4 linked regions of the Homo sapiens genome follow. The protein of the gene in region 2 purifies or fractionates together with the protein of the main gene of each other region. This does not show direct contact. Each region holds a gene or a part of one and is shown on either strand. Other genes may lie near its edges.

Region 1 (3,500 bases), on a different chromosome or scaffold from region 2:
GTGTTCATTCTCTTTGTCATGAGGTTTCCAGGCCCCACTGCCCTCTCCCCTTTCTCCCATCGTACTTTTTTGTTTATTTTTTAGACGGAGTCTCGCTCTTGTTGCCCAGGCTGGAGTGCAATGGCACGATCTTGGCTTACCACAACTTCTGCCTCCCTGGGTTCAAGCGATTCTCCTGCCTCAGCCTCCCAAGTAGCTAGGATTACAGGCATGTGCCTCCACGCCCAGCTAATTTTGTATTTTTAGTAGAGATGGGGTTTCTCCATGTTGTTCAGGCTGGTCTTGAACTCCCAACCTCAGGTGATCCACCCACCTCAGCCTCCCAGAGTGCTGGGATTACAGGTGTGAGGCAGTGCGCCCGGCCGCCATCGTACTTTTTCACACCAGAATCTCCATGGACAACCATATCTGCCCCTATACAGGTTAAGTATTCCCTCTATATCCAGCCCCTAATTCTCCCCATCAAAATCTTTTGGTCTCTTGACTTAAACATGAGCTTTATCAAATCTCCTGAAGGCTAATTCGAGTTTGGCAAATATTTCTGGAAAAGACACCAAGAACAATTTGGCAATCTGAAGGTTCCAGCAGTTTTCCCCAGTAGGTGGTGGTTATTTTTTATAAGCCGAGCTGCTGAAGAGACAGGCTGGGGCCACCATGTCAACCAGCCAGTCTAGAACCCCTGATGTGGGCTCACAAACAAGACAGCAAAGTTCTGCTGTCTCACTCCATGACTATGTCTGCATCGCACTCCAATTAGTTCAGGTAACCAGACAACCACAAGGGCACAAGAGGAGCACTCAACCCCTGAGCAGAGCTCTAGCTCACCCTTCCATGTGTCCACAGTTCATTTATTGAGAGTTTATTCTGTACAAGACACTTCAGCTAGATGAAACATCCTTTCTACATTAACAGATTCAAGTTCTTCAGCACCTACTGTGTGCCGGGCTATGTTCTAGATGCTTAGGATACAGAGGTGAACAATACAGACTTCCCACCCTCATGGAGCTTATAACCTTAGGGGATGAAGCTGGTGATAAATTTGTAAACAGAGACCGGGTGCAGTGGCTCATGCCTGTAATCCCAGCACTTTGGGAGGCTGAGGTAGGCGGACTGCATGAGCCCAGGAGTTTGAGACCAACCTGGGCAACATGGTGAAACCACGTCCCTACTAAAAGCACAAAAATTAGCCAGGCTTGGTGGTACGCACCTGTAGTCCCAGCTACTCAGGAGGCTGAGGCAGGAGAATCTCTTGAACTCGGGAGGCGGAGGTTGTAGTGAGCTGAGACCGCACCATTGCACTTCAGCCTGGGTGACAGAGCGAGACTCTGTCTCAAAAAAAAAAAAAAAGATCTGGGACCCAAAATAGCCTTTCTTCTCCCCGGCCAGCTATGAGGCTGAGGATGGGCTGCCTGTTAGTGAATGCCTGGGCAATAGGCTGCTTGGTTCCATCCCTCTGGGGATGTTGATGCCTGTGCTGACCCCATGACATCCACGTCAGTGCCTCCCAAAATTTTTGGAGGACAAGGAGGGGCAGGGGACACTGCCCTAAATAGAACCCTTCTGACCACCAAGGGTCTAAACATAATGGGACAAGTTATAGGGATCATAAAGGCATTTGCCATTCAAGGAGGAAGCAATGGATGGGGCTCCTTTCCATAACAGTTCCACAATAGGAAGCCCCCAAGCAAGGGCGCCCCTTTTTCAATTTTTTCCTCAGTTAATGTTGCTCGAGATGGGGTGATTCTCACCACCACATCCAGGTCCTCAGCAAGCGTTGCTTACACTGCCTCCAAAACATATCCCAAATCCATTGGCTTCACCTGCTCCTCCGTGGTCTGGTCTGGACTCGCTCCAGCCGCCTCACTGAGGTTATATCTGTGATTATACCTACCCTCTATAATTCATCCTCTCCACCTCCAGCCAGAGCAAGCCTTTTAAAGTGCAAAGCAGATTGCTGTACCCACCAGAAACCCTCCTGTGACTCCCCATTGCTATTGGAATAAAACCCAAACTTCTTACCACACCCTTACCATGGCTTTCTAAGGCCCTACATGATCTGGCCCCTCCCTAGTTTTCTGGTCTTCTCATTCTCTCATTGCTTACTGTCCCTGAACATCCGGGAGCCTCTGTACTTGACTGTTCTCTCTGTTCCAAATGTTCCTTCCCTGAATTTTTGCAGTGTTGGCCCTTTTCATCATTCAGGTCTCAGTTCAGATGTCGGCACCCGAAGGAGGCCATATCTGATCATGACTACCTCTCAGTTTCTGTCATATTTTACTGTTTTTAATCTGTAAGTTACGTTGAACTCTGTTTACAATTTTTTTTTGGTTTTAATCTTTTTAAAAAATTATTATTTTTACACACAGGGTTGCGCTGTTACCCAGGCTGGAGTGCAGTGGCGTGATCATACTCACTGCAGCCTTCACCTCCTGGGCTCAAGCGATGCTCCCACCTCAGCCTCCCAAGTAGCTGGGACCACAGGCACATGCCAACTGCGTCCCTTCATTCTCTGTTTTTGATGTCTGCTGATAGGAATTTCCTGAAAACCCAAGTACCAAGAAGCAATAAAGGTAGTGGTGTGAGACTGTTCCCTTCCACTTAACCTGCCCATGTCTTTTTTTTAAACCCTCTGTAGTGACAGTAGAAATGCACAAGCCCCATGCCACTGCCCAGCAAATAACCACACTGCCCTTGAAGCAGCCATGGGAGTCAGACGGGGGACAGGGCTGCTTCGTCATCTGCATAGTACTGACCATAATGGTATCGGACATGTAACAAACCCAAGTCCATGCTCATGATGGGAAAATAAGAACATTATGGACAGGTGGGGCATGAGCCTCAAGCTATGAGCTCCTCATGCCAGGCCAACCAGTGCTGCCAAAGCCCTTTCAAAGTTCTCATGGCCAGGGGCGAGAGGAACGCCAGGCTACCTTGAACTCATGCCTAGAACTGAAATGTGTTTTAACGACAATTTAATTCCTCGCAAGCTGAAATGTCACAAAGTGGAGGAGGTGGACCTGGAAGAACTCTGCAGCCTACAGCCTTGGGACAAAGGGCTTTAAATGAACTTTTCAAAGAATTCTGCTGGCCTTTTAGAACCTTCCATTGCCTAATGCTCACTAAAAGCTCACCAGATCTCCACCCCCAGGCATTATTCCTTCAGCAGCTACATTATTTCTGCTTACAACTTCAGACGACATCTCAAACCCAACGCTGACCACCCAGGAAATCAGGCTGGGGATCAGCAGGGTGGGAAGAAGTACTCAGTGAATGAATGTTCCAGATATTGGACATGAAAGAAGAGTAAGACAGTCCAGCCCTGGACAGAGAAGACTGTGACAAGAAGGATACCTAAGTGTGGGAGAGAAATACAAAGTGCAAGGGGAATACTTGCCTGGGGCAAGAGTGTCAAAAAAGCACCTCCAGGAGGTGCCATCAGCACCTTCAAGGATAGGCTATCTCATCATTTGGATCCTTCTGGTCATCCGCTGGATCCTTTG
Region 2 (3,500 bases):
AATCTTTAGAGTCAATTCCTAGAAGTGGGACTGTTGGGTCAAAGGGTTTATTGTACTTTTAAATGTATATTTTAATGATTTACATCAGTTTCTTTACTTCGAATAATAATTGGGTAAGCGAATGATCTCTTTAGTTTTAGGATCTCTAAATTTATCAATCCACTATTGTGTGTGTGCAGAGAGGGTTATCATACCAAAATGATCCAATCTATTACAAGATAGAAAGTAGTAAACACCATGAAGGATTAGGACATAGTGTTCAGGATGTCTGGAAGAGAGAGAAGCCCCAGCTACTGAGTCAGGGAGCTCTCTAGAAAAGAAGGAGCCATTTAAGCTTGACTTTAAAGAGTGGGTAGAACATGGAACTATGGAGAAGCTCAGAACGTGTAGTTTAGGCAAAGGCAATAATGATGGCTGAGGCACTGCTGGGATGCTTGGAAAGAGGGTGGGGCGACCAAGTTTAGATGAGAGTGTGTCCTGACGAGAGTGGGTCCTGGATGTTTAGGCTGTATTTTAACCCTGCTTCTTCTACCTTAGTTCAGTGTGGCTCAAAATGATCAGAATGAAGAATTCAGAAAGCTTGAGAGGCTTTCTGAGTTATGGCTTCTGTGCTTGCTTTTGGGATTCGGTGCTCTGCCTGTGGTTCTCCCAGGACAAATATTAGTACCAGGGAGATCTAGTGGAAACCAGGAGTCCAGACATCTATTGTCCAACCCTGACCTTGCTACCAATCCACTCTGACCTTGTTGATGGTCACGTGAACGCAGGAACCATGGCTGGAATATGTTGCTTCTCTATCTGTGACTATTACAGTGCCTACCTTTCACACAGGAGGGGTCCTGCCTCCAGCTTCCTCTGTGGCATCAGACAAGTCACTTTCTCTCCCTGTACTGGGGTTCCTGGTCTCTGCAGTAAAGGAGATACTGTAGATGGTCTCTAAGCCCATAATTGTACTTTCTCAGATTCTGTGAAAATAGGAGAGATGTATGCACTGTACAAATGGACATTTTTTGTTATCCATGTTCTCAGAGTGCCAAGGGGACTCCCCTCTTTATGCTTCTCAAAGACCCTTACATCCTGGTGGCTGCAGGTAAGCTGGCGATGACCTCCCATTGGGCGGGGAGTGTCTGGGCTTCAAGCAGCCACGGCTGCTCACAGAACAGTCTCCCCAGGGTCCATCTGCTTTGCCAACATGGGGGTGGCCATCCTGGAGCCCACACTGCCCATCTGGATGATGCAGACCATGTGCTCCCCCAAGTGGCAGCTGGGTAAGTGACCTCAGCACCCCCGCTCAGGGCCTGGCAGGAGGAGGTGGGTGCCATGAGTCCTTTCGTTCAATGTCACACAGGGACAACATGCTTCCTTTGTAGAATGACCTCCCACGTCCACACCCATGAATCAAGCCCAAGAGGGTGTGTGGTCCCTCAGAGAAGCAGTCTGAGAAAGGGGAGGGTGAGAGAGGATGAAAGGGGCTATGGAGAGGTCACATACCTAGCTGTGTAGTAGGATGATTAATGATTTCCAGTCCAAAGATTCAGGTTTTGGTTTCAGCTCCTTTGATTTTCTGTGAAAACTTGTGCAGATGCCTTAAACCCTCTGAGCATCACTTTTCTCATTGCTAAAATGAGCATCAAAATACTATCTAGTTCAAGAGAAATTGGATGAATAAATGACATATGAGGTGAAAATGCTTTGTACCCTGTACAATATTAATGTGCACCATTACCATCCACATTCTCCTCCCTTCAGCTCCTCATCCTCAAGACTACCCTTTGGTTATCTTTTTTACCTCTAAAAAGGGGTGTATGTAGCACTCACTTAGGAAAAGCTATGGGCCCAGGAGAGAGGGTTCCAGCTTCCTTTGTTCATGCAGCGACTTAGAGAGGAGCTTGGAGAGGAGGATCTAGCCCTTCCCAGGAACCCTGAGGAAAGAGGACAGGGAAGGCTACGTGCAAATTGCTCCATCACTGCAGGGAGGAGAGGCTTACGGGGCCAGAGGGGAAGCTGATAAGAACATGATATAGTTCAGCATGCAATAAAAAGCACTAAATCTAATTTTGGGGGGGCAATTCTAAGCAAGACTCCCAGCTGCACTCCTAGTGCCAAATTGAATTTTTATGGGTTGCAAGTGCTTTTGACCATGACGATTAATTGAGTTAGTCGGTATTCAGTGCAGATAATTCATCGCCTGCCCTAAGGCTCTGACCACTCAGGGTCTCGATACTAGTGAGCAGCTACAACACAGAGCAGCTCCTCCCCAGCAGCCTAGGGACCATTCTCAGTTGCCAGTTACCAATTACTCAGTTACCAGTCACTCAGTTGCCACCATCTTTTACAGCTTTCTCAATGCTATCTGGTCTGTAAAGTCTGACATCAAAGGTTGTCCAACAACTACATCAGAATCACCTAGAGAGCTTGTTAAAACTCTGATTGCTGGGAGACAGTAGGCAATTTAGTCAAAACAAGTTTTCATCCCTAGTAAGTCTGCAGGTGATGCTAATATAGCTGGTCAGTGATCACACCTAGAAAATCGCTGCTGTACATGAAGAGCATCCCTCAAAGGTGTTGGGAGCCAAAGGAGTCCATGCTTTTGAAAGTAATGTGTAGTCTGCCTCTGAGTGCTTGCTATGTGGCCCACCATATACTAGGTAGCATCACCAAGGGGAGGAAATAGCCCAGGTCCACCTGGGTTTGAATGCTGACCACGTCACTTACTGATTGTGACCTCGGATAAGTTATTTAACCTCTTTGACCTCTGATATGGTGTGAATGTGTCCCCCAAAATTTATATGTTGCAAATTGAATCCCCAGTGCAACAGTCTTGAGAAGTGGGACCTTTGAGAGATGATGAGATCATGGGAGCACCCTCATGAATGGATTAAGGCCATTATCATGGGAGTGAGTTTGTCATAATAAAAGGGGAGTTCAGCTCCCTTTACATCTCTCTCATGTGTGCTCTCTCTCCATGTGACCCCCTTTGGCCATGTTATGATCCAGCAACCAGGCACTCCCCAGGTGGCCAAACAGACACTAGAGGCTTGCCTTTGAACTTCTTAACCTCCAGAACCCTGAGCCAAATAAATCTCTTTCATTGATAAATCATGCACTCTGGTATTCTGTTATATTATAGCAGCAGAAAATGGACTAAGACAGAAAATGGGTAATGAGAAACCGGGCTGCTGCTATAACAAATACTTGAAAATATGGAAGCAGCTTTGGAACTGGAAAATTGGTAGAGGCTGCAATAATTTGGAGGAGCAGGCTAGAAAGAGCCTGTATTGCTGTGGTTAAGGCATTAAGGGTGATTCTGGTGAGGGCTCAGAAGAAGAGGAGAGCTATAGAGAAAGTCTGAATCTTTTTAGACATTGGTTAAGAGGTTGTGACCAGAATGTTGATAGAAATATGGACAGTGAAGGTCATTCTGACGAGGTCTCAGATAGAAATGAGGAACAAGGTATTGGACACTAGAGTAAAGGCCATCCTTGTTATACAGTTACAAA
Region 3 (3,500 bases), on a different chromosome or scaffold from region 2:
CTGAGGACAGAGGGAAGCCACTGGAGGAGAGTTGCGTGATCAGATCAGTGCCTTCGAGTGATGGCCCCAGCCTGCAGCAGAAAGGATGCTGGAGACAGGAGTACACCCAAGACTAGAGGCAGGGAGGTGGCAAAACTGAGTGCAGCATGGGTACGGAGAAGGGGACAGAAGAGAGAGCAGGTGGGAGAATCCACAGGTCTTGGTGACTAATCGTGCATGGACCTAGGGGAAAAGGAAGTAAGGGTGTTACCTAGGTTCCTGGCTTGTGCGCTGGGACGATGGTGCACTGGTGCCATTTGTTGAGGGAAGAGGCAGAGAAACAGGTCTGGAGGGGAGGTGATTACTTCTGTTTGGGGTATGTTAAGTTTGAGATGTTCAAATGAAGAAGTCCTAGGTTGAAAGGTGAAGAATGGGTCTGAGTACAGAGACCAGAGATGGATGTAGATTGAGAACCAGTGGTGTGCCGGTGACTTCTGAAGCCATGAGAGCAGGTCTTAGCACTTGAGGACTGCGTAGGGAAAAGCTCTCCAACCGCGTGTGTCCTCTGCTCTCACCGCCAACAGTCAACACAGAAGAAGACTTGTGTGACCGGATGTATAGGAGTTTCCCCACACACCAAGCAGCGGCCACCAGCTAGGTGTCTCCGCATTCTGTTCTGACACTGCCTACCTGGAGATAGTGTCAGAGCCCACGGGTTGAGGGCTCAGCAGCAAGTCCAGGCTCTGGAACCTCTGACCCACCAGCTTCAAGGTGGGGTTTCCATGGCTTCCTGTTTGGATTTGATTAATTTGCTGGAGCAACTCACAGAGCTCAGGGAAAACCTTATGTTTATGGGTTTATTATACAGGACACTGCAAAGGATACAGATGAAGAGACACATAGGGCGAGGTATGGGAAAGGGGCATGGAAGCTCCCCGTCCTCTTGGGTTTTTATGGGAGCTTCATGACATCAGCATTCCTTCCCCCGAGGTCTAGGGGGGACCCTCTCCTGGAGGTCTTAAGACCCACCGTCAGAAAGGCGGAGAGGGAACAGTGGAGTGGAAGGAGGGCAGGAGAAGGTGGGGTCCTAGCGCCCCTGAGGCTCACGCACCTGGCATTCTATCAAAAGACTAACCAGGGCCGTGAGGAGCCAGGAACGGGGAGGAAAACCAGTGTCTCTCATCACACCCCAGGAACGTGGCTTGGGGCACTCTGGCTTTTATGGGTTGAGTGGAGGAGGAGTCACAGAGCAACTGAGGACCAGCCCAGGAGTGGGAGAAGAAGGTGTGGTGGCTGCTGGCCATGTAAAATCCTGTCAGAAACTTCTAGGAGCTTCTTGAAGACAAACTTGAACCTCATTTGGAATGTCAGATGTTGCTTATTCTTCTCATTCTTAAGTAACCTTGACAGAGTTAAACACTTCTGTTCCGACTATGGGATGTGAATGCAGTACTTGACAGAGTTAAACACTTCTGTTCCGACTATGGGATATGAATGCAGTACTTGACAGAGTTAAACCCAGGAACTATAAACAACTGCATTCAAGTCACCTGTACATGAATTTTCCACGGGGGAGCAGGGCTGCCTCCCAAACCACTTACCAGGGAGGAAAGATGCCCAGAGGGGACAGTGACTGCCTGCTACCTGAGCGTGAGAGGGCACCGGGCACCGCAGGGGCCCACTCTGACCTTGCTCCCGCGCCTCATTCCTAGTTACAGTCTGCACTGTAGACATCCAGCCTCCAGCACCTCCCCCCACCACATGAGTCCCCATCCAGCAAGTAAGGTCCACACTTGACTCCCTGCGGTAACTACTCTTCAGCAGTGAAAACAAGCAGCAAGTTTTGCCAGGCAATAGTTATTTATACTGACTTTTCCGAGATGGAGTCTCACTCTGTCACCCAGGCTGGAGTGCAGTGGAGCGATGTCGGCTCGCTGCAACCTTGGCCTCTCAGGTTCAAGCGATTCTCCCGCCTCAGCCTCCCAAGTAGCTGGTACTACCAGCGCACACCGCCACGCACGGCTGATTTCTTTTTTATTTTAGTAGACAAGGTTTCACCGTGTCACCCAGGCGGGTCTCGATCTCCTGAGCTCAGGCAGTCCGCTCGCCTCGCCCTCCCAAAGTGCTAGGATTACAGACGTGAGTCACCGCACTCAGCCCTGACTTTTCTCATATTCACAAAAACTCATTCCCTCAGCAGTGGGCAAATATGAAAAAGACAGCAATCCAGTGCCCATGAAATAACTTTCAGAGGAAAGTTACAGGGGAAAATTTGCAGCTGGAGTCCATCCACAAATTTTGTACTTCAGTTAAGCTATTAAATTTATATTATTCACTTTTTGACTTAGTGACTTCCTAACCTGAAGGCAATGAAAACTCTCAGTGTTTAGAGCCATAGTTTATGAGGTTATCAGCCATAGAAGATGCAGTTTTCACAAAGCATCTAAATCCATGCAGCTGTGTAAATGAGGCCTTGTTCTCATGGCTCTGTTCCATTCAGAGAGCTTCCTATTGGAATTGTTTTTGATAAAGGGGAAAGACCATAGACTGTCTATCAAAGGACAACATTAGATTCCTTTGAAAGGCTTTTCATTATTTTCCATTAAAAAAATCCTTGCATTTGTGCATGCTTTTTGCATGCTTTTTATGTTTTTTTAAGTACTTACGCCTATTAACTTATTTATCCTTATAACCCTTTGACGTAGGTAGTGAAGGAATTATTCCTAATAGCAGAAACCCATAAAATGTTAGTATGGAAATTAGCTTGAACCCGCTTCTCTAATCCCTTTCTGCCCTTTTCCCCTTGTTGATTTCTAGTGCGGTGGAGTAGCTTTCTGTTACATTCTGCGCAGATGACTTGCTGGCTTGCTCACTGGCCTCATCACCATGATTTCAGGCTAGAATTCTTGCTGTGGCCTCCATGTGGGCCTGTCCTCTGCTCCTCTGCACGGCGGCTGCCCTGGAGCTCTCCCATGCCCCTACTCCCTCCTGCCCTTTGTTCATCTCCAGAACATTCACGTGCCACCTTGGGGATGGGGAGAGGGATGCTGTGGTTCCCCCTTTGAGTTCTTCCCCCTGAACTTCACCCTCTATCTCGGTCCCATTGACCTCCCAAGCTCTTCTTTCATGGTTCCCACTCCTTCTCATTCCATAGAAAGATCAGCAGCTGACTTGAGAAGGAACTTTCCTTCTCAGTGAAAATAACAGTTGCTCTACTTCTGAACTCCAAGGCCTACTTTTTGCTGCAGATAGGAAGGCTCAGCAGGTTACCCTCATCTTGTTGGTAAGTGGCAAGTTGTGGTCCCTGCCTCGCCTTCTTTACGGTTATTGTACAGTCACAAGGGGCGTGGGGGGATAGTGCAGATTTTAGCAAGGCTGCTGTGAGAAGCTACTGCCTCTGTGCAAAGAGTCTAGTTGGGAATGAAAGGGGTGGCCCCAGCCCTTTTAATAGTTCTCTTCCATGTCTGGAACAGAAGCAGCCAAAAAGGACATTGAGCAGAGGGTGGTAGACTCCTGCCAAG
Region 4 (3,500 bases), on a different chromosome or scaffold from region 2:
GGTTAATTTTGGGGTGAGACTTGTTATTGTTAGCATTTGTTATCCTTTCACAAACCTCATGTTTGAGTCAGTGATTATAATAGAAGAATAGTAAAGCTGTTTATTTATTGTGTGTTTACCGTGTGTTCTAATTGTTTTGCATGTATCAACTAATTGAATCCTCAGAACAACCCTGTGAGTTTGGTACTGGTACTGTCTCAGGGGTAGAGCTACCCTCATTAGACAGTTAGGACTTGAACTTAGATTCTCTGATTGCAAAATTTGTATTAATTCTGCCCTACTACTACTGTGTTATTCCTGTCCTGCATGGGAGAATATATAGTTCATAACAAGATCAAAATGGCTTTTTGTGTGTGTGTGTGTGTCTAACTAGTATCCAGAGAGAACCTTCTGTAGTGTATAAAATGTGGCAATCGGGGCCAGGCGCAGTATCCAGAAAGAACCTTCTGTAGTGTATAAGATGTGGCAATCAGGGCTGGAGCGGTGCCTCACACCTGTAATCCCAGCACTCTGGGAGGCCGAGGCTGGGGGATAAGTTGAGAGCAGGAGTTCAAGACCAGCCTGGCCAACATGATGAAACCCCCGTCTCTACTAAAAATACAAAAAAATTAGCCGGGTGTTGGGACGTGCACCTGTAGTCCCAGCTTCTTGGGAGGCTGAGGCAGGAGAATTGCTTGAACCTGGGAACTGGAGGATGCAGTGAGCTGAGAACGCACCACTGCACTCTAGCCTGGGTGACAGAGCTAGACTCCATCTCAAAAAAAAGAAAAAAAAGAAAAAAGGACCAGGCGCGGTGGCTCACGCCTGTAATCCCAGCACTTTGGGAGGCTGAGGCAGGTGGATCACCTGACGTTGGGAGTTCGAGACCAGCCTGACCAACATGGAGAAACCCCATCTCTACTAAAAATACAAAATTAGGCAGACCTGGTGGCGCATGCCTGTAATCCCAGCTACTTGGGAAGCTGAGGTTTAGAGTTCCTGAGGTTTGAGGTCAGGAGTTCAAGACTAGCCTGGCCAACATTGTGAAACCCTGTCTCTACTGAAAATACAAAAATTAGCTGGTTGTGGTGGCACACGCCTGTAGTTCCAGCTACTCAGGAGGCTGAGGCAGGAGAATCACTTGAACCTGGGAGGCAGAGATTGCAGTGAGCCAAGATTGTGCCACTGCACTCCAGCCTGGGTGACAGAGTGAGACTCCCACTTGAACCCGGGAGGCGGAGGTTGTGGTGAGCTGAGATTGCATCATTGCCCTCCAGCCTGGGCAACTAGAGTGAAACTCCATCTCAAAAAAAAAAAAAAAAAAAAAAAATTCTGATGTTACTGAACAGAACATAGTAGATTTTTGGGTATGTTGCCAAAAAAGAAAACCATTAGTTTTGACTGTTAAAGGCAGTTCTGAAATCTAGTTTGTAAATTAGTTTAGGTCAGAGCCTGTAGCTTTCTTTCCTTATGCTTAGAGTGATTATAACTATTGCAAATGAAATGAAATTCAATGCAAGACATGTGGCTAGTTTTTCTGCTAATACTATCTTCTGCCACTTTATGGAAAAGTTGACATTATAGTTAATATTTCAGGAGTGGGTTGAGAGATTTCCAACAGGGAAGGAAGCATTTGAGACTTTTCACCTGGTCAGCTGTTTAGTGGTTTCGTATTCTGGGCTTTATAATTATAAGGCATCCTTAGAATCTGATCTTCGTTGGGATAAAGGCAACTCATGAAGGAGCAACAGCCTATAATCTTGAAGGATGCACTATTCAATTTGACCATTTGACATAGCCATGGGAAACTTCAGTTGCAAAAGTTGGCCAGATAATCAGCATGTCAGGTGTCTTCTGAGAGAGCCTCTGCTAGTGCTGGGAATCCTGGTAGCTCTTTTAGAGGATGAGATTTGGGAAGCTGTGTGTTGAACATGATTCTGTGACCATACTGAAATAGCCCCTAAGAGCTAATTGCTTAAATGACCAGAATACAGGCTTCCAAGCTGATCTTTGTAGAAAGGCCAAGGCAAGCCTGTATCATTTAAATTTTAGTTACTTAACCAAATAGGAAAGTTAAGATGGAAAAATGACCACGGATATTTCTATTTTTTATTAATTTCCATTCTGATTTTTTTACTTTCACTGCATTCTGGGTTTTTTTTTTTTTTGAAACTAGAGTCTCACTCTGTCACTCAGGCTGGAGTACAGAGGCACAATCTTGGCTCATTGCAACCTCTGCCTCCCAGGTTCAAGTGATTCTCCTGTCTCAGCCTCCTGAGTAGCTGGGACTACAAGGCGTGCACCATCACAACTGGCTAATTTTTGTATTTTTAGTACAGATGGGGTTTCACAATGTTGGCCAGGCTGGTCTTGAACTCCTGACCTCAAGTGATCTGCCTGCCTCGGCCTCCCAAAGTGCTGGGATTATTGGCTTGAGCCACTGCACCTGGCCCACCACATTCTGTTTTGAATTATGCTTTCAGTAAACTATAATATGTGATCAAGGCCATTGTCAGTGAGAATAGTTGGCACAGGAGCATTGACCTTGTTCAGAAGATAGATGTTAAAATTGAAGTCACTGCCAGTGTTCTCAGATGGTTTGATCCCTGTTGCTGAGCTCTCGTTTCAGACCTGGCCTTGATGCTTCCCATTTTATATGGCTTGTTTTGCCCATGTATTTTTTCAATTCAATAAGCAGACTTTTAAAATTGAGTAAATAATGTATGGTGCTGTCCTCAGAGGGCTTATAATTCAGTGCAGAGACAGATTTATGTGCAAATGTAAATAACATACACAAAGCACGGTAAGTAAACTGCCTAACACAGTTCTTTGGAAACCTCAAGAAATGAGAATGGTATTTGAGGCTAAAGGAAAAATAGCTTGAGCTGAGACTTGGAGATAGGGAAATATTATGCAAAACAAAAAAAGCTGAGTAAGTCTGTTATGATGGGAATGGGGGTGCTACGGCTGTGTGAAGTACTGGGAAAGGGGATCAGCTGTGTGGTTTGAGACTTGGCCCATGCTGCCTTTATGATTTGAGATCTTGGACAAATTACCTTACCTTTGCAAGTCTCAGTTTCTTCCTCATAAAATTGGAATGACAAGATTCACTCATAGTATTGTTAGGATTAATGTATGTGAAAATGTACTGTGTAAACACTTAAGCTCTTATAAATTATTATTATTTTTGGTGTGGGATGTAATAGCAGATGATGCTGTGGAGATAGGTTGGGACCAGCATGTTGTAGGAATGCCAACAGAACTAGTTTGGACTTTGTTCTGTAGACAGTAGAGAACCATCAGAGCTTTTAAGCAGGAGCGTAACATGAGTAGGTCTGTTTTGTACGGGTAACAGGTGGCATTGGTGTAACACTGATTGCAAGGATCCGGAGATCAAGAGCAGCAAGACTAATTAGGAGGGTATCACAATGGCCAAGTAAAAAGAAACTTAGGGTCTGAGTTGGGACAGTGGAAGTGGATTTGGCAAGGAGTTAATATAATGTAAAATCCCTAAAATAGGG

The links. The genes of interacting proteins can lie anywhere in the genome.
Region 1: the proteins of SLC18A1 (region 2) and FADS1 purify together in Homo sapiens (affinity purification with mass spectrometry; 2 studies listed by BioGRID and IntAct, with this or other methods). This does not show direct contact.
Region 3: the proteins of SLC18A1 (region 2) and EMC8 purify together in Homo sapiens (affinity purification with mass spectrometry; 3 studies listed by BioGRID and IntAct, with this or other methods). This does not show direct contact.
Region 4: the proteins of SLC18A1 (region 2) and ECPAS purify together in Homo sapiens (affinity purification with mass spectrometry; 2 studies listed by BioGRID and IntAct, with this or other methods). This does not show direct contact.

Annotation. Positions count from the first base shown.
Region 1 is NC_000011.10:61,807,004-61,810,503, forward strand, and holds part of FADS1 (acyl-CoA (8-3)-desaturase), read right to left. Parts: intron 1-3,500.
Region 2 is NC_000008.11:20,162,637-20,166,136, reverse strand, and holds part of SLC18A1 (chromaffin granule amine transporter), read left to right. Parts: intron 1-1,029; coding exon 1,030-1,090; intron 1,091-1,172; coding exon 1,173-1,268; intron 1,269-3,500.
Region 3 is NC_000016.10:85,793,045-85,796,544, reverse strand, and holds part of EMC8 (ER membrane protein complex subunit 8), read left to right. Parts: exon of another isoform or gene 1-3,262; intron 3,263-3,500. UniProt on the Homo sapiens protein: Part of the endoplasmic reticulum membrane protein complex (EMC) that enables the energy-independent insertion into endoplasmic reticulum membranes of newly synthesized membrane proteins.
Region 4 is NC_000009.12:111,474,384-111,477,883, reverse strand, and holds part of ECPAS (proteasome adapter and scaffold protein ECM29), read left to right. Parts: intron 1-3,500. UniProt on the Homo sapiens protein: Adapter/scaffolding protein that binds to the 26S proteasome, motor proteins and other compartment specific proteins. May couple the proteasome to different compartments including endosome, endoplasmic reticulum and centrosome.